4 linked regions of the Homo sapiens genome follow. The protein of the gene in region 4 interacts with the protein of the main gene of each other region in a biochemical or structural test. Each region holds a gene or a part of one and is shown on either strand. Other genes may lie near its edges.

Evidence for each region. Proteins that work in one complex are often made in the same cells at the same time.
Region 1: the proteins of TJP3 (region 4) and SSTR5 interact in a test that uses a peptide from one of them, tested with the Homo sapiens proteins (one large-scale study listed by IntAct).
Region 2: the proteins of TJP3 (region 4) and SLC9A3 interact in a test that uses a peptide from one of them, tested with the Homo sapiens proteins (one large-scale study listed by IntAct).
Region 3: the proteins of TJP3 (region 4) and DACT1 interact in a test that uses a peptide from one of them, tested with the Homo sapiens proteins (one large-scale study listed by IntAct).

The regions. Positions count from the first base shown.
Region 1 is NC_000016.10:1,071,505-1,076,142, reverse strand, and holds the start of SSTR5 (somatostatin receptor type 5), read right to left. Parts: upstream 3,397-4,638; 5' UTR 3,321-3,396; intron 1-3,320.
Region 2 is NC_000005.10:471,854-475,949, forward strand, and holds part of SLC9A3 (sodium/hydrogen exchanger 3 isoform 1 precursor), read right to left. Parts: intron 3,819-4,096; coding exon 3,708-3,818; intron 3,467-3,707; exon of another isoform or gene 3,284-3,466; intron 3,280-3,283; coding exon 3,030-3,279; intron 1,547-3,029; exon of another isoform or gene 1,530-1,546; coding exon 1,526-1,529; 3' UTR 1-1,525. UniProt on the Homo sapiens protein: Plasma membrane Na(+)/H(+) antiporter. Exchanges intracellular H(+) ions for extracellular Na(+) in 1:1 stoichiometry, playing a key role in salt and fluid absorption and pH homeostasis.
Region 3 is NC_000014.9:58,636,635-58,641,357, reverse strand, and holds the start of DACT1 (dapper homolog 1), read right to left. Parts: upstream 3,397-4,723; 5' UTR 3,156-3,396; coding exon 2,811-3,155; intron 2,522-2,810; exon of another isoform or gene 2,096-2,521; intron 1,946-2,095; exon of another isoform or gene 1,867-1,945; intron 623-1,866; coding exon 490-622; intron 1-489.
Region 4 is NC_000019.10:3,724,897-3,729,464, reverse strand, and holds part of TJP3 (tight junction protein ZO-3), read right to left. Parts: intron 1,042-4,568; coding exon of another isoform or gene 1,033-1,041; coding exon 985-1,032; intron 862-984; coding exon 752-861; intron 1-751. UniProt on the Homo sapiens protein: TJP1, TJP2, and TJP3 are closely related scaffolding proteins that link tight junction (TJ) transmembrane proteins such as claudins, junctional adhesion molecules, and occludin to the actin cytoskeleton.

The DNA of each region.
Region 1 (4,638 bases), on a different chromosome or scaffold from region 4:
GGGGAGGCGGGGAGGAGAGAGGGAGAGAGGGAGGGAGAGGGAGGGGGAGGGGAGGAGAGAGGGAGAGAGGGAGGGAAAGGGAGGGGAGGTGAGGGGGGAGGGAGAGGGAGGGGGAGGTGGGGAGGGAGAGAGAAAAGGTGGGGGGAGAGGGAGGGGGAGGAGGGGGAGGGAGAGAGAGGGGGAGGTGGGGAGGGAGAGAGAAAGACAGGGTGGGGGGAGAGAGGGAGGGAGAGAGAGTGGGGGGGGAGAGAGAGAGACAGGGTAGGGGGAGAGAGGGAGGGAGGGAGAGGGAGAGGGAGGGGAAGAGGCCTGTGGCTCTCCGCTCCCCAGGGACCAGCATGGAAATCCAACACGCCATGTTTGCGGCTCCCTCTGGCTGCCTGTGGAGCATGCATTCCGGAAGGACAGTGGTCTGGAGACAGCCCGCGGGCTGCGTGGGAGTCCAGGTGGGTGGGATGGCGGCCCAGGTGCAGAGGCCTCTGAGCTGCACCCTCCCTGGGGAGGCACTTTCGGCCCATTCCTCCGTAGCAAGGAGGCCAGGTGGAGGGGACAGAGGAGCCACCGATGGTGGGACAGGGAGAGGGCGGCTGTCGGGCTCCGGTCCATCTCCAACACAGGCCCTGGGTCCCCAGCACGTGTGGTTCCCAAATGCCTGTTTGATTTTTTGTTTTCGAGATGGGGTCTTGCTCTGTTGCCCGAGCTGGATCGAAGTGGTGCTGTGATCACAGCTCACTGCAGCCTCGACCTGTGCTCAAGTGATCCTCCTGCCTCAGCCTCCCTGTCTTTGTAGCTTCTTAGCTTCAGAGGAGCCTCAGGGTTCCTCCAAGGCCACTCCCATGCCCAGAGCCCAGCGAGGGGCTCCACAGGCTGCCAGGTCCCCGGCTCTGCGGCCCCCAGTGCTCCACCTCCGGAGTTAGACTTCAGAGCAGCAAAGGACACAAATAGACCATTATTGCTGTACCTGACTCTTGGAACATAATTCTGCAAGAGCCGTTATTTGGAAGCAGTATCCTCTGAATCATAAAATTACGCACTCACGGGGAATTGTCCCGGTGGCCCTGTCCCTTGTGGGTGGGGGATTCACTGGAGGGGGAGCCAGCAGTAGGAGCTTTCTGATCCCGAGCCCTCGGCCACGAAGGGATCTGCTCAGCCTGACATGGCACTGGGAGAGACCCCGGCCCCTGACCACTCCCCACACGGGCTGCGTGGTCTGGGGTAAGTCACGGGCTTCTCTGAGCCCAGCTTCTGGGATAGGCAACTCCTGCAAACTGTAGGGTTGCTGAGCTGATGAAACTGAGTGAGCTTCTGTGTGCAGGGTGCTGCGTGCATCCACTCCCAGCAGCATCCATCCCTCCCATCTCCTGCCCCCACCCCACAACTCACCATCTGCAGGTGCCCGGTGTGCCAGGGTCAGCCCAGAAGCCACAGGGGACCCAGATGGCCCCAGTCTGCCCACAGCACCGCTCCCGGCCTCACCTCCCCACGACGGGGACCACAGCGGGGCTGGCATACACTGGGCGCTCAACGATTGCTCCCACAAGCTGCCCTAAGCAGCCCAGCATTTCCCCAGCATCCAGGAGGCCGCTGGGCTCCTCGGAGAAGGGGGCAGTCTTCACAGGGGCCTGGGACCAGAGGCGGGGCCTCAGCACCAAGTCCTCCATGACTGGGTGGAGGTCTAGCCTGCACCCTGCCAACTCCTTCCAGGCTAACCCAGCACGAGGTCGGGGAGTCGGCTCCTTCATGGGGGGCAGCGATGCGGCTGCAGCTTGGAGGGGCTGCGGAACCTGCTGCTCGGGGAGGCAGCGGCTCACACGGCCGGGGCCCACGCCGCACCCTGGAGAGGCTGCAGACCCACCCGGGCTCCTCCATTGTGTGCTGGGCAGGGGCAAACGTCGGGGGACACCCTAGCTAAGACTACAGGCCCCAGCCCCTCCAAAGGCCCCGGAGCCAGGCCTGTGCTCCCAGGACAAGCGTTCTGACCTGTTTCCTCTGTCGTAAGGGTGGCCTGGTGGCAGGCCACTGCCCCCTTGGGGTCCAGCTCTGTGAGTGCAGCCAATGGCACCCCTGCCTGTCCCCCACATACACGCCACCTGTCCCTGCGGCAGCCTGTGGCCAGGGGCACATACCCTCCCCAGGAGAGGGAAACTGAGGCAGGTGTGGGCCAGCCTGGAGCAGCAGCAGCAGGGGTCCCGCGTGCTCCGCGAACGCTTCTCGGGGCACCCTCCACACCAGGCACCTCCTGACAGCCTCGCTGGGTCTTGCTCTGGAAATCAACGCCAGGCGCCTGTCCTTGGTGCTGTTGACCAGTTTCTGCCCAGGAGGCTCTGGCAGTCCCCACCTACATAGTCCAGAATCACTGCCTTCAGAAAGGGCTCAGCCTCACTGGAACCATCCCCAACTTCTGTCACCATGCACTCCGCTCTCTTGCCCTTGAGGGGGCCCCAGGCAGGCTGGCAGGCTGGGGACAGCGGGTCGGGCACGTGGGTGGGTCTGGGGTGGGGGAGGAGGGCCAAGGGCACACACCCCAGTGGCGTGTTCTCTATTCTGGAGAGGGTGAAGACGCCAGGAGGATTCCAGGTACACGCGGTGCCTTGGACAGGAGGGGGCTCTGTTCGCAGCGGGCGGGGTGGCACCCCAGCCTCCCCAGTCTTGGGTTTCAGGGAACCCATCTGTGAGTGCCAGGTCACAGGGCCCCTGGGTGCTGGCCTCTGCCTGCTGCCTTCCAGGAGCTCACCGACCCAGCTGCGCGCAGGCACCAGTTGCCTCCCCCGGCACCCAAATTGCGGATCCTCCCCTCGCTGGGTGCCACGGGCACCCTGGGACCCTCCTTCCGTGGCCCAGTGGTTCCCTGTGGCCTGAGTGCCACTTCCGGCCCCCAGCCCCAGGCTCCGAGCCCTCCCCAGCCTTACCCACCCTCCTCCAGCTCCAGGAGCCAGCCCCGCTGTGGCCCCCGTCGTGGGGAGGAGAGGCCGGGAGCGGCGCGGTGGGCAGAGTGGGGCCATCTGGGTCCCCTGTGGCTTCTGGGCTGACCCTGGCACACGGGGTGCCTGCAGATGGTGAGTTGTGGGGTGGGGGCAGGAGATGGGAGGGATGGAGCTGCTGGGAGTGGATGGAACGGGAGGGGAGGGACCCCCGGCGGCGGCAGGAGAGCCCCGCGGGTGTGCGGAGGGCGCGTGGGGGACAGTGCGTGCAGCGGGCTGGGGGCGCACGGCGGGACCCCGGGCCGGGGCTGCGCACACAGGGTGAAACCCCCAGTGGGGATAACAGCCGAGGGCAGGGGGTGCCCGCGCGGGAGGGGGACAGGGGCGGGCGGCACTCACCTGGGCGGCGGCGCCCTCTGAACGGGGGAGCCCCGATGTCCGCGCGGCACTGGCTCCGGGCTCCCGGGCGCCGGCTGGGAGGGGGCGGGGCGGGGCGGGGGCGGGGCAGTGCCTGGTGGGGGCGGGGCAGGGCCGCTTCACCTGCTCGACTCCCGGGTCCCACGTCTGGCCTCCGGGAACCCTGGCGCACTCGCCCACAGCCCTGGTCCCACTGGCAGTGACCCCATGATCGCCTGCGCCCCCACCCTATTTTCTTGCTGTCCGCTCTGTGGTAGACCCCAGCTTGGGGTGGGGGTCCTGCCGCCAGCAGGAGTCCAGGGGGTCCCTCGTCGAGAGTCTGAAGAGGGTGGAGGGTCCTTGTTCAAGGGGAGAGGGTCAGGGGCTCTGCAGACGTCTCTGAGGGGTGGGCTGGGGTTGTGGAGATAAGTGGGTGTGTGGAGGCTGGTGGGGGCGGCAGGCAGCCCCAGCGAGGGGGGTCCGTGGTCGTGGGATTTCCAGGACACTCCACTCGGGTTTTATCCATGCCTTATTTGTGGATCCTACACATATTTAAGCATAGACTACCTGCTAAGTTGTTCTTTTTATTTCCCCTGAAATGAATCCATGGGTACACCTTAGTCCCTCACCTAAGGTGGGGTTCTCAGGCAGGCAGCAGAGTCACCTGGGTCCTCAAAGCAGATTCCTGGGCCTCGAGCTGGGCCCCCGACTCCCCAGGCAGTGAGGGCCTGGGAATCTGCATTCCTGAGAAGCTCCCGGGATGCTGATCCCCGGGCCCGCCGTGAGCGCCGCTGGTTGTAAGAAGCGGGACCGAGCGCCTCCTCCCGCTGAGCGCGGAGGCTGGGGATCACCGGACATTTTCCCACCAGGAGGTCCCCCAGCCCCCTCCCCTGACTCTGTGCCGACCCAGGGAGCCCCGCCACTGGCTGAATGAAGTGAGGCGCCCCCAGGTGACAGCAGAACTCGGAGGGCCCCTCTCTGAGGGGACATGGGAGCAGCCGCCTGCCGTCTGTTCACAGGTGGGGTCGGCTCCTGTTGAACAGGCGCCAGCAGCTCCCTTGAAGGCCGGGTACCGGGACCATGTTCTCTCCTTTAAGCGTTTCAGTGTTTCCACATGTTCTGCAAGCAGCGCGTGTTATGTTTACCATCGAGCAAGAGTGCTTAGAGGACCATGGCACCTGGCCCCAAGGTCCCCTCCCCTCCTCCCCAGCCTGCGGCCATGGCCAGGCCCTCAGGGGAGGCTGCAGGCTGGTCCCAGGTCCCCTGCCCAGAATCCGCCCCATAAGCCTTTCCATCCTCTCTGGAGGTACCTGGGCTGTAT
Region 2 (4,096 bases), on a different chromosome or scaffold from region 4:
GGAAATTGTGGACTTTTCCCACCAGGGACTCAATGGGGACTCAATGTGCAATATTCAGTCAACATAAAACTCTTTAAGAACTCCTCCTGACTGGTGACTGTCAACACTTGATCTGAAACGTGAATAGTTTAATTTTCCTGAGCAAGGAGCTGCGAGTCTAGCTTTAGAAAAGCCCCTAGGAGTGTCCACCTCCACCACTTCCACCGTGCAGGCAGGTTTCAGGTGGGTTGGACCCTGTGGGACTTGCCGTCTGAGGGATGGATGGACTCCGAGCACCCTCCCCGGCTCAGCACCCGCGGCCTCCGCCCACTCAATGGACTGTGCCTCCCAGAGCTTGGGCTGGATGGTCTCCCTGCAGAGGACCAGGAGCTCTGTCCAAGGCCTCGCCCTGGGACGCTGGAAGGGGTGGGAAGGGTCAGGGGTCCGGGGTCTAGGACAGGCTCAGGGGTCTCAGCAGGTTCTCCTTGGAGGGCCTGAGCCTGGTAGGGGGGCGGTGCCCTGGGCCCCTCCATGCCCCCTGGTTTGTTAAGGGGGACAGAGCAGCTGCTGGGCCCCACCATCCACTTAAGGACTGGCCGTGATTCTTGGCAAGCTCCGCCCGCCAGGCCACCTCTCACCCAGCCAGGGCACCCCGGGCGACCTCCGCGCCAGGTGCGACAGCTCAGGCCGGAGACCTCGTCTGTGGGGACGGGCCGTGTCCGGGGCCGCCACCCTGAGACCGGGCGCGGGCAGGACGGAACCTGGGGGGGAAACGGGGCAGGTACTGGCTTTAGGAGTCTAAATCCCCAAACGCTGAGCAGACGGAAGACGTTCCTGCCACTTTACCTGCAGTTCAAAGACCTGGCGAGGGCCTGGAAACGGCGCTCGGCCCAGGCCGCTTGCGGGCGCTGGGCCTGCAGCCGCTGCAGGTCGGGCCCTGAGTCCTGGCGCTCGGGAGGTCCCTGAGTCGGTCCCCGAGTCAGTCCCCGGGCGCGGGGCTCGGTTGGGGGGGCCCGGAACCTTGGGCTGGTTTCACGCAAATCCGTTTGGGGCGAGCCTCGGTTTCCCGGCAGCGGTGGGAAAGGGCGCGAGCGGCCAGCCATGGCGCGCGGACCCTTCCCGCCGGCGGCGTCACAGCGGCGTCTCCTCCTGCTCCAGCGCGTGCGGCGGTGCGTGGCACGAGGGCGGCAGCGACGCCAGCTTCAGCAGCGCGGGGCGGCGGCGCGCGCGAGGCCGCTGGAACGAGCGCCGGCTGTGCACGCGGCGCGCCGCCGCCGAACGCGCGTGCGCACTCGGCAGCCCTCGGCGCTCCGGCCCCGCCCCCGGCGCAGGCCCCGCCCCCGGCTCGCCCTCGGGCGGCTCTGCGGGCGCAGGCGCGGCACTCTCGGAGTTCTGCGCAGGCGCTGGCGTGGGCGAGGCGGGGCTCGGGGCTCGCGGTCGCTGTAGCCGCGCGGGGATCTGGGGTTTCTCTGGGACAGCGGCGGCGGCGGTGGGCGGACCGTGGCGCGGGGACGAGCGGCCGGTTAGCGGCGTGTCGGAGCCGGTGTCACCTGCGGGAGAGGAAGGCGTGAGCGGCGCGCGGAGCCCGGGCGCTGGGGCGGGAGGGGCGTCCCCGGGGGCCTCAGCTGTCCCCGAGCCCGGCGGCTCTCGCCTCCCCTCCCGCGGCGCACCCCAGGCTCGGCGTCCGCTGGGGCCTCCTCCCAGGACCCGGGTTCGCGGGGCAGAGGCGGAAGCAGCAACAGCGAAGCCCCAGCCCGGCCCCGCCACGTCCCCCCGCCGGGGGTCCCGGGACAGCGGCCTCCTCGGCGCAGGAAGGTCCCGCCCCAGGCCCTGCAGCGCGGGAGGTCAAGGTCCCCAAGGGGACCTGCTTCCTCCATCTCAAACCGCCCTGGCGTCCCCCGGGTGCCTCCCAGGCCCCCAGAGGGAGCTCAGAAAGCCCAGACCCCACGGCCCGCCCCTCTCCCTGCTCTGAGCTGGAGGCAGAGTCCGGGTCTGCGGGGCCGGCCCTCCCTGTATCCCTGTGAGAGGGTCGGGGACCCGGGGCGTCTGTCTGGCTTCCCCCAGCCCTGCTCTCAGCTCCCTGGGAGCGCAGGATTTGGACTCGCGGACTAGCTTTCGGAGCCACCTAAAGGAAATCTCAGGCGGCCCTAGTGCCCTCAGCTCCGTGGGAGCAGCAGAGACGCCAGAGTATCTCTGTCCGGGCTCCTGAGGGAGGTGCGGCCAGCAGGGCGCTAGAGGAGGAAGAGGGGCTGCTGGAGAGAGAGAGCGCGCCAGGTTCAGGTCCAGGGAGGAGAGAGAGCGAGCGCGCGAGGCGGAGACCTGGAGGGAGAGGAGCTGCGGAGAGGGGTTAGGCGGGGAGGGAGAGAGAGAACCAGGTTCCGGTCCAGGGAGGAGAGAGACAGCGCGCGCGAGGCGGAGACCTGGAGGAGAGGAGCTGCGGAGAGGGGTTAGGCGGGGAGAGAGAGAGAGCGAGCCAGGTTCAGGTCCAGGGAGGAGAGAGACAGCGCGCGCGAGGCGGAGACCTGGAGGGAGAGGAGCTGCGGAGAGGGGTTAGGCGGGGAGGGAGAGAGAGAACCAGGTTCAGGTCCAGGGAGGAGAGAGACAGCGCGCGCGAGGCGGAGACCTGGAGGAGAGGAGCTGCGGAGAGGGGTTAGGCGGGGAGAGAGAGAGAGCGAGCCAGGTTCAGGTCCAGGGAGGAGAGAGACAGCGCGCGCGAGGCGGAGACCTGGAGGGAGAGGAGCTGCGGAGAGGGGTTAGGCGGGGAGGGAGAGAGCCAGGTTCAGGTCCAGGGAGGAGAGAGACAGCGCGCGCGAGGCGGAGACCTGGAGGGAGAGGAGCTGCGGAGAGGGGTTAGGCGGGGAGAGAGAGAGCGAGCCAGGTTCAGGTCCAGGGAGGAGAGAGACAGCGCGCGCGAGGCGGAGACCTGGAGGGAGAGGAGCTGCGGAGAGGGGTTAGGCGGGGAGGGAGAGAGACAGCGCGCGCGAGGCGGAGACCTGGAGGGAGAGGAGCTGCGGAGAGGGGTTAGGCGGCGGGAGGCCCGGGAGCGTTACATGTGTGTGGACTCGGGGAGGGCGGCGGGGGGCCGCTCCTCGGGGCCGTCTGCCTGCAGGAAGGAGTCCACGGACTTGCTGCTGAGGCGGAAGGGCATCAGGCGGCAGAAGGTGCCGGGAGAGTAGGGAATCTGCGTGCGGGCCCTCTGCGAGGGGACCACCGTCTCCCCGGGAGACAGCCAGGGCGGCAGCCTGGCCAGGAGGCTGCGGTCCAGGGCCTCGTCCGGAGAAAACACAGGGTTGTCAATTCCTAGGAGAGAGGGCAGCGGCTAGTCAGCCTTCGGAGAGCCCCACGGCGGCAGGGGAGACCTCGCCGGGGCCGTCACCTGCTGGGTGCCTTGGAAAGTTAGGGTCACCGGGAAGGTTAGGGTCACGTGCCTTTCAGGTTGCGGGCCCTTCCCCCACATCCATGACCCCACACGCCACAGGCAGCACAGGTAACGTCTCGCTTCCCTCAAGACATACCCCACCTGCTCCCTGCCCGGCCCACGTCTCCCCGGACAGCAGCCTCCGAGTTGGTTGAGGGGGCACTCAGTGGGTGCCAAGCAGGGCCCTTGAGAACCCACAGGAGACCCCACCCCCCCAGGTCCCAGTGCCCCTGGTCCAATGACCGAGCTCCCTCCTGGGGCGGCAGGAGCCACCCCTCCCTTAGCCACGACGCCTGTGCCCCGTCCCCACCTGCAGGGGAGTCGGACGCTGTGTCCTTGGTGACACTAGCCAGGAACTCGATCCCCCCACTCATCTCCTCATCATAGTTGGGGGGCTCCTCGGTGTCTGAAAGTTCCAAGTCTGGGGAAGACAGGTTGGGGTGAGGACTGGGGTCACTGGGGGGCTGTCCTCACAGCCCAGTCAGCAGTGTCCATCAGCTCTGTGCACAGAGGTGCAGGCAGTCGGGACCCACAGAGAGGAGGGCTAAACCGCAGGGCTGGAGGAGGGACCCCACTTAGAGGGCAGTGTCCCTGGAACCCCATCCTGGGTGGGTCTGCAGCTGGGGCCCTGACCATGCCTCCCCTGCCTGGGTGGCTGGAGGGTCCCCAGAGGGGAAGGTCCTGAGAGGGGAGGTTCCC
Region 3 (4,723 bases), on a different chromosome or scaffold from region 4:
ATTGACCTTATTCCTTGACCCCGCCTTTGAACATGTCCAAGGAAAGAAACTTAGATCTGTCAAGCCTCATCTTTATCATGATTGTTTCAGAACAATAATAAGAGAAAAATCTAAGGAGCCCAAATGGTTTAAAAGAAAAAAAAAAAAAACTTTTGAAGTGGTCTCAGGAAGTTGAAGTGTGACTAATTTTCTAGCCCAGTTCTGACTTACTCAAGTTTCAAAGGAGGGCACCTCTTGCAGAAATTTGAATAGCTTTTATTTTTAAACTTGGGGGACTCCAATCACATTGATCTCATTACTAAAAATTTTGTTGTCTGAGTTTATTTCCCTCTTATTCCGATAAAACTGAATGGCAGACTTCTTTTTTGTTTATCCTCTCTGCACTGGAAACAAACTCCATTGCCATTTGCAGGTCTGGGAATGTTAACCACAAGGGGCTGAGATACAACTCAAGAGTGCAGAATTCTGTCCTTGTGCTCAATCACTCACCTGAGCTAGGCCGACTGTCTGTCTCCAGGTGCTCTTCAGATGTCTTTTCTACATCCAGTCTCAGGTCACTTATCTGCTTGTCAAGCTCTTGCAACTGATTCAACAAACCAGCATCTCTTCGCCTCAAACAGTTCTGATTAGGAAGAAACAAAGGAAACATGAACATACAGGGGTGACAAAAGAACCAGAAAGTCTACTCTAAGGATTCAAATTACCCATCTGAAGAGTTCACTAAACTTAGAAAACCAAAATTTTACTGGATGACCTGAAGTAACGAAAAACTTCGAGAATTCAAGAATATGTCCTATGTTTAATTCCACTTTCTCACATTTTGTGGTGATATAAAGTTTCTTCATAAAAACAAGACTTGTTTTTAGTTTCAACTAATATATACAAACTGACTTTTCATAGATAGGGACAAGAAAAATGGACTGAGACTTTAAATCATCTGGTGTATAACCAGTCTTTTAAAAAACAATACTTCACAGTAGACTCTTTAATTTGAAATGAGAGTAAGAGATTTCCTATAATACACTATAATCTTAGGTGAGATTTTCTGGCCAAATGTCTTGGCCTGCAGAGTTTTGTTTTCTATTAGTTGCTTTGTGGGGTTTAATCAGTCTTAGAGCCTTTGAAAGTGAGAAACTAATACTAATAGCCAGTGCCAAGTATAATGTGAGCTGGCAGAATCCAAAACCCTCATGGGAAGGCCCATCGAGATTTGAACGCCTCTGGGTTTCCAAAGGTGACAGATGGATTGTGCTAACTCACACTGCCACCTAGTGCTTCCTATTGCTGGAAAAACGGGAGAACTCAAAAAGCATCTGGTTCAAATCATGAATGCCAAGTCTACAAATGAAAATAGTACCATAAATACTGACTGGACTGGAATTCTCTTGACATACTGCTTTGCTCCCCTCAAGCGGACAATAGGAATGCGCCACTTACAATCTTGAGATTCATGCAGACAAAAAGGTGCAATTGCACAAAACAATAAAATGTAAAAGTCACCAGCCATAACCAGTGAGAACTGGCTCAAATGAATGTTACATAGGAATCTGGTCTGTGACCGAAGCAGCACAGTAAAATGCCAAAACAGAGATATTACACAAACCACAGTGTACATCCTTACAAAACACATGCATATGAATATCTACGCCTCTTGTCTTTTGACTTAAAAAGCTTGGAGACATAAATTGTATGTTTGTTTGCTACAATTAATTTCTTCAGGAAAAATGAACCTATCAAGTAAAAGCACTTTGGTGCTTAAAAACACACACACACACACAGAGAAAAGAAATGATCTGAAAAGAGATAATAGAAGAAAACACATGACAACTGCACAGCATCACCACTTTATTGTGGGAGGGCCACTACCTGGCATGTGTCTAGTTTAGATAGTATCACTTGGTCAGGTGAGGACGTTTGCTGTTTCCAAAACTACATTTTAAGGTCACTGAAAACAAAGCTGTCGCCATTATTCTGAGGCGGGGTCAAAAGCTGTTCATCAATACATTAAGCTACAAAGTTCTTTTTCTTCCCCATTAATGAAGACTGCATAGAAAGACTGAGACACTGACAGAAACCCAGTAAGATAAATGCTTACCGAGAGCAGGTTCTCTTTTCTCCCACCTCCACCACCAATCACAGCTGGCAGAACGTATAAAATATGAGAGGAGGGGACACAGTCTCCAGCCAAATTTCCATCATTTCCATCTAGTTTGAGCTGCCTTATACAAAGGGCTTCTATTTGAAATTAAGCACCAGCCTGGGTGAAAGCTGGCATGCTGGGGAGAGCTCTCGGAGAGGCACGGCTCCCTACAGGCGCTCCAGTGTAATCGTAAAACTCGGCCCTGGACAGTTAAGCACGCCACAAACCCCCTCCTTGGCTTTTGGCCCCTCTCGGCGGGAGGAGATAAAGTCAAGAAAACCTCCAAATAAAATGGTATTTTAAGTGGGAGTTTGCAAACCGCTGGGGAGAGGGCATATACTCATCTAACTAAGGAGACCGAACGTTAGAACTAGGCGACTCCAAGAATCCCGAAGGCAGAGGAGGAGGGAAGAGCGGCCACCCCCTTCCCGCAATCCGCGCGAGGTCGCCAGACACAAAGCGGGCACACGCCAGAAACGCGTGGGCGTCGGCAGCCCACACGCCGCGGGCACTCAGGAAGGGGATCAGGGAGGTATGGGGCGGTCGGGGGCGTCCCATAACAGCGAGCATCTCCCCAGCCAGAGTCAACCTCGCGCCCGCCCCAGGCCACCTGCCCGACCTCCAGCCCCTGGGCAGGAACAGCCGTGCTCCACCTTCGGGCACGACCTACCAATTGCTTTCTTAGCAGCAAGATGTTCTCCTCCAAGAACTTCTCCTCCAGGCGACTGCGCTGCGCCGCCTCCCCCAGTAGCTCCCCAGCGCGGGGCGCAGCGGCTCCCGCACCCCCGGCGCCGCGCAGGGCGCCCCTGACCAGCAGCTCTTGGCGCTGGCGCAGGTACTCCAGCTCCGCCAGCCCGGCCAGCGTGGCCTCCTGCCGCTCCCGGGTGCGCTGCCGCTCGGTGTCTGCCTCGCCCTTCTCCCGCCAGCGCCCCTCGGGCTCCGCCGTGCGCTGCTCGCCTCGGGCCGGCGCCGGAGGCTCCAGCTCCTTCGCCGTCCCGGCCGGACTCGGCTTCATGGCCCCCAGTCGGGCAGCGAGAGCCGTCACCGCAGCCGGGCCGCCCAGGCGGAGGAGCAGGGCGCTAGGGCTGCGGCCGCGGGTGGGCTCATGCCGCCCTGTGGCGGGGCGCGGCGCTGGCGGGGACGGTGGCTAGAAGCCCTCGAGTCCTGCGCGCGACCGCCGGCTGCTGCTGTCCCGGCCCGGGCAGCGCCGTCCGCTGTCGCCGCGCGTCCCTCGCCGCGGCCCGGCAGCTGATAACGCCCTGCCCGGCGCTACGTCACGCGCGGCGGCCCTGCAAACCCCCGCCTGGCGCCCGCCTCCCCGCGCCGGCCCCTCGGCTGCGACGCTTGCGCCCCCAGGCTTCCCCTCCTCTGTCAGGCGCGCCGCCCGGCCCCCAGAGCCGCCTCCTCCTCGCTCGGCCCTCCCCGCCCCTCCTCGCCCCTCCCCGCCTCCTCCCCCGCTCTCTTCGCGGGCCTCCTCGCCCCCTTTTCGGGTTTACTGCACCCGATTTTGCCCTCGCTCCTCATTGGCTCTTTCTCGTCGCCCAAAGCTCGGGGCGAGCGCCTGGAGCCCCAGCATCCTGTTACAGTCGGCCGCGCAGGCAGGGGCCGCGACGGGACGCGGCAGTTGGGCTCTCCGGAGAACTTTCTGAAACTCGACCAAGTTGCAGCACAGTCTTAACCCTTTCCCCACACGGCCACTCCTCATTTCCACTCACACCGAGTTAGGTTTCTTTCACTTCCCAAGCAAGGTATTGCAAGTGTATTCACAGACACTGTGGGGTTGGTTCCTTAACTCCACTTTGTAAAGGCAAGCAATACAGAGCACAATGCAGTGTTCTAAAACTTAAGTTTTGTTGTCGTTTTAATTTTTTAACGTCGGTCTTACGATGGACGGCATTTAAAATTAGGCAGGAGGATGTCGTTGTATAGCGAGAGGTTGCATCAATTCTTTTACAAGCCTACGATTTGAGTGCGCGCGCGTGCGCGCTTTGGTTTTTGTTTGAGCTTTTATTATTACTTAGTCTGCGTTTACAATAAGAGCTCTGACTCAGAAATCAGACTGTCTGGATTTGTATCCCAGTTTCACCCCTAAATAGCTGTGCGGGCAACTTACTCCCTTCTCTGTGTACGTTCCCCCCACTGTAAAAGGGAGCAGCTGCTATGGGAACCTGCTGTTGAAGAATTATAATAGTATGCAGCATATGCTATATATTGTGGGGGCTGTGCACTTACAACGTGGCTAGCACATAGATAGTAAAGGTGATATGAGTTGTAGCTTTTCTCCAGAGGGATTTATAAGTCTTCCCTCTTGAAGTATCATGTATTGGTCATCTCTGCTTGGAACACACTACTCCAGACCCCTATCCCACTGAAATTTCCGGTGGGATAGGGGTCTGAAAATTCCACTAGCTGGCTTATCTGTGGAAAAGTACCACATATATCTTTAAAAGCAGTACATCCAAGAACCTCGGAAATTCAATCCAGCAAGTCACAATTGCTGAAGTTCAGGCAAAGTGTTGTGTGAAAGAGTGCATCCTATATCATTATTTCAGACACTTGCACTTTTGCCCATCTGCTTACCCG
Region 4 (4,568 bases):
CCTCGCTCCCCACACCACAAATCCCCACTTTCTGCTTTTCTTTCCCTCTCTTCCTGTCTGTATTTCATATTTTCTTTCTAGCTCTTTCTCTCTGAACCTGGTGGTCCCTAATTCTGGGCTGGGCTGAGCCATATCACCTGTCAGCCACTTGGGGCCCAGAACCATTTTAACAACATAATTCCAAGAAGCATCAAACCCTCAAACACTCGATGGTTTCCAGGACTTTATGTTCCAAAAGGGCTCTGGGGCCACTATGACCCCAAGAATTCCTGTGAAGGACCAGGAAGTACCTTAGGGAAGTGAGGCCCAAGTCTCTGACACTGTCCTACTGCCAAGTCCGAGCCCTGTGTTGACAGAGCTGGAAAGTGCCAGGCTCACAAAGGTTTCTCCTCACCTCACTTACTTTCTTTTTGAGACAGAGTCTCACTCTGTCACCCAGGCTGGAGTGCAGTGGCGCAATCTTGGCTCACCGCAACCTCTGCCTCCCGGGTTCAAGCAAGTCTCCTGCCTCAGCCTCCCGAGTAGCTGGGATTACAGGAACACGCTACCACATCCCGCTAATTTTTGTAATTTTAGTAGAGACGGGGTTTCACCATGTTGGCCAGGCTGGTCTCAAACTCCTGAACTCAGGTGATCCGCCCACTTCAGCCTCGCAAAGTGCTGGGATGACGGGTGTGAGTCACTGTGCCTGGCCTGGTTTCTCCTCTCCACGTGCCCTCCCCCGCCAGAACCCAGCTGCCTGGATACTCACTGTAGCCTGCCCTCCGCCGGCCCTCCAGGTACCACGTCAGATACAACCATGGATCCACCGGGCCGGTCTCGGCCTCCAGAGATCGCAATGCCAAAGCCCCGGCGGGGGTCCTGAGAGAGGATGAGGGGAAGGAAGAGCTGCTGTTTCCCCCAGGGTAAAGGGTCTCCCCTCTATTGAGCTGGGCCTAAGCCGCCATACTCTCTGGCACCCAGACAGGGAGAGGGAGGCCTCACCTTGGACAGTGTGGCCGTGTGCTGTTCCCAGATGGTCAGCTCCTCCATGTCAGCCACCTGGTCGAGGGGAGCGGGGAAGATGGGCATGAGGCCACACAGGTTCATCTGAGCACTTGGGGGTCCCCAGCTCAGGGTGGGGAGTCCAGCTCTGACAGGCCTGTGTTTGGAGCCTGTGACAAGTTACTACCTCTCTCAGGGCCTCAGGTTTTTTTGTTTGTTTTTTTGTTTTGTTTCATTTTTTGAGACAGAGTCTGGCTCTGTCGCCCAGGCTGGAGTGCAGTGGCACGATCTCAGCTCACTGCAACCTCCACCTCCCGGGTTCAAGCGATTCTCCTGCCTCAGCCTCCCAGGTAGCTGGGATTACAGGGGTGCACCACCACACCTGGCTAATCTTTATATTTTTAATAGAGATAGGGTTTCACCACATTGGCCAGACTGGCCTTTAACTTCTGGCCTCAAGTGATCCACCCACCTCGGCCTCCCAAAGTGCTGGGATTACAGGGGTGAGTCACTGTGCCCAGCCTTGTTTTGTTTTTTTTGAGGCGGAGTCTCATTCTGTTGCCCAGGCTGGAGTGCAGTGGCACAATCTCTGCTCACTGCAGTCTCTGCCTCCCAAGTTCAAGTGATTCTCCTGCCTCAGCCTCCTGAGTAGCTGGCTGCCTACTGGCCTCCTGAGTAGCTGGGCTCCTGAGTAGCTGGGCACCTACAGGTGCCCACCACCACGCCAGGCTAATTTTTCTATTTTTAGTAGAGACGGGATTTCACCATGTTGGCCAGGCTGGTCTCAAACTCCTGACCTCAACTGATCCACCCACAGAGGGCAGAGATTTTTGTCTTTGTCCAAAACTGAGCCCTCAGTTCCCTGCCTAGAACAGCGCCTGAGTTGCAGCAGGGATTCAAGAAGGATTTGCTGAATGAATTAATGAGTGAATGAATGAAACACTTCCTTTGTGCCAGGTGCTTTACATGTACTATCTCTTTTTTTTTTTTTTTTTTTGAGACAGAGTTTCGCTCTTGTTGCCCAGGCTGGAGTGCAATGGCGTGATCTTGGCTCACTGCAACCTCCGCCTTCCAGGTTCAAGTGATTCTCCTGCCTCAGCATCCCAAGTATCTGGGACTACAGGCATGTGCCACCATGCCCAGCTAATTTTTTTGAATTTTTAGTAGAGACGGGGTTTCACTATGTTGGCCAGGCTGGTCTCGAACTCCTGATCTTGTGATCCACCCCCTTGGCCTTCCAAAGTGCTGGGATTACAGGCATGAGCCACCGCGCCCAGCCTTACATGTACTATCTCATTTAATACATTCATCAAAGGTGCATTCAATTATCCCCATGTTACAGATGAGGAAACTGAGGCACAGAGCCATGAAGTCCCCCCTCCCACACTTTTTTTTTTTTAGACAGGGTCTCTGTCACTCAGGCTGGAGTGCAGTGGTGTGATCACGGTTCAATGCAGCCTCGAACTCCCAGGCTCAAGTGATCCTCCCACCTCTGCCTCCCAAGTAACTGGGACCACAGGCACACATCACGATGCCCGGCTAATTTTTTTTATTGTTTGTAGAGATGGAGTCTCTCTGTGTTGCCAAGGCTGGTCTCAAACTCCTAGGCTCAAGTGATTCTCCAGCCTTGGCCTCCCAAAGTGCTGGGATTACAAGTGTGAGCCATTATGGCTCACTGCAGCCTCGAACTCCTGGCTTCAAGCAATCCTCCTGCCCCAGCCTCCTGAGTAACTGGGACTATAGGTGCATACCATCATGCCCAGCTAATTTTTTAACTTCTATTTTTATAGAGACAGGAGGGTCTTGCTGTGTTGCCCAGACTCTTCTTGAACTCCTGGGCTCAAATGATCCTCCCACCTGGGCTTTCCCACTTAGAAAAAAAAAAAACAAAAAAAACTCTGTTGCTGAGGCTGGAGTGCAATGGTGCCAACTTGGCTCACTGCAACCTCTGCCTCCTAGTTTCAAGCGATTCTCCTGCCTCAGCCTCCCAAGTAGCTGGGATCACAGGTGTCTACCACCATGCCCAGCTAATTTTTGTATTTTTAATAGAGACGGGGGTCTCACCATGTTGGCCAGGCTGATCTTGAACTCCTGACTTCAAGTGATCCGCCCGCCTTGGCCTCCCAAAGTGCTGGGATTACAGGCGTGAGCCTCCACACCAGGCAGATTCTGTTATTTTCATGTCCATGGCATGAATGAGAACACCAGACTCAGGTGCAAGGTCACCTGGCCACGCCTCCACCCTCCCTTCCCTCCTGCCAGCACGCACCATGCCCTGCTCCCCAGGCAGGGGACAGGTGGAGGGAGTGGGGAGGGAGTTTGTAGAAGTGACTCCTCCTCCTCCCCGGGGCGGGTTTTCTAGGCTTGGCACAGCGGGTGTGTGATTCCCTCTGCCCAGGCACCCCCCATTGGTGCGCTCCAGTGCCTTTTCTTATAAGCTCCAGCGTCTCTAGCGAGGCCAGCATTCCTGATCTCCAGGAGTGGGAAGGCGGGTGGAGGGGAGAGAAACAGAGCAGAGGGCAGGGCTCTGCAGTTCTGAAGGAGCCAGGGCAGCGCTCAGGACTGGACTCAAATCCCAAGTCTGCCCACCCGTGCTAGCTATGGCGGGGCCTCTCCCAGCCTCAGTCTCCCCATCTGTGAAATGGCACTGCTGCCCTGTCTTGCAGGGATGTGGTTTGGGAAAAGGGTACAGATTCAATGCCTGAAAAGCAAAAAGCAGAAGGAGCCTTGGGGAGGTGGTGGCCAAATAATGACTTTCTCCTTGTGTAGTTTTTTTTTTTTTTTTTGAGATGGGGTTTTTTGCTCTTGTTGCCCAGGCTGGAGTGCAATGGCGTAGTCTCGGCTCACTGCAACCTCCACCTCCTGGGTTCAAGTTATTCTCCTGACTCAGCCTCCCGAGTAGCTGGGATTATAGGCACCCACAACCACAGCCAGCTACTTTTTGTATTTTTAGTAGAGACGGGGTTTCACCATGTTGGTCAGGCTGTCTTGAACCTGGCTGCAAGCAGGCGCTTGATGTGGACCCATTCATTTCATCCTCAGAGTGACCTTAGGAAGTGGCACAGTTATTATTCCTACTTTAGAGGTGAGATTAAAAGGGGCCTAGAGAGGTTCAGTAACTTGCCTGAGGTCACGCAGCACAGTGGTGAACTTGGCAGCCTGCCCTGTTCTCTGGCTCTTTTTTGGTTGGTTGGTTGGTTGATTGGTTGTTTGGTTTTTGAGACGGGGTTTCACTCTGTTGCCCAGGCTGGAGTGCAGTGGCTCAATCACAGCTCACTGCAGCCTTGAACTCCCAGGCCCAAGGGATCCTCCTGCTTCAGCCTCCCAGGTAGCTGGGACCACAGGCATGCACCACCACACACAGCATATTTTTTTGTTTTTTTGTAGAGATGGGGTTTTGCTATGTTGACCAAGCTGGTCTCAAATTCCTGGGCCCAAGCGATCCTCCCACCTCAGCCTCCTAAAGTGTTGGAATTACAGGCGTGAGCCACCGCACCCAGCCTCACTCTTGCTCTTAACCACCAGGCTACAGTGGCTTTCTGATTATTTACTCTTTTTCTTCTGAGCTTATTTTTCAAAACTGC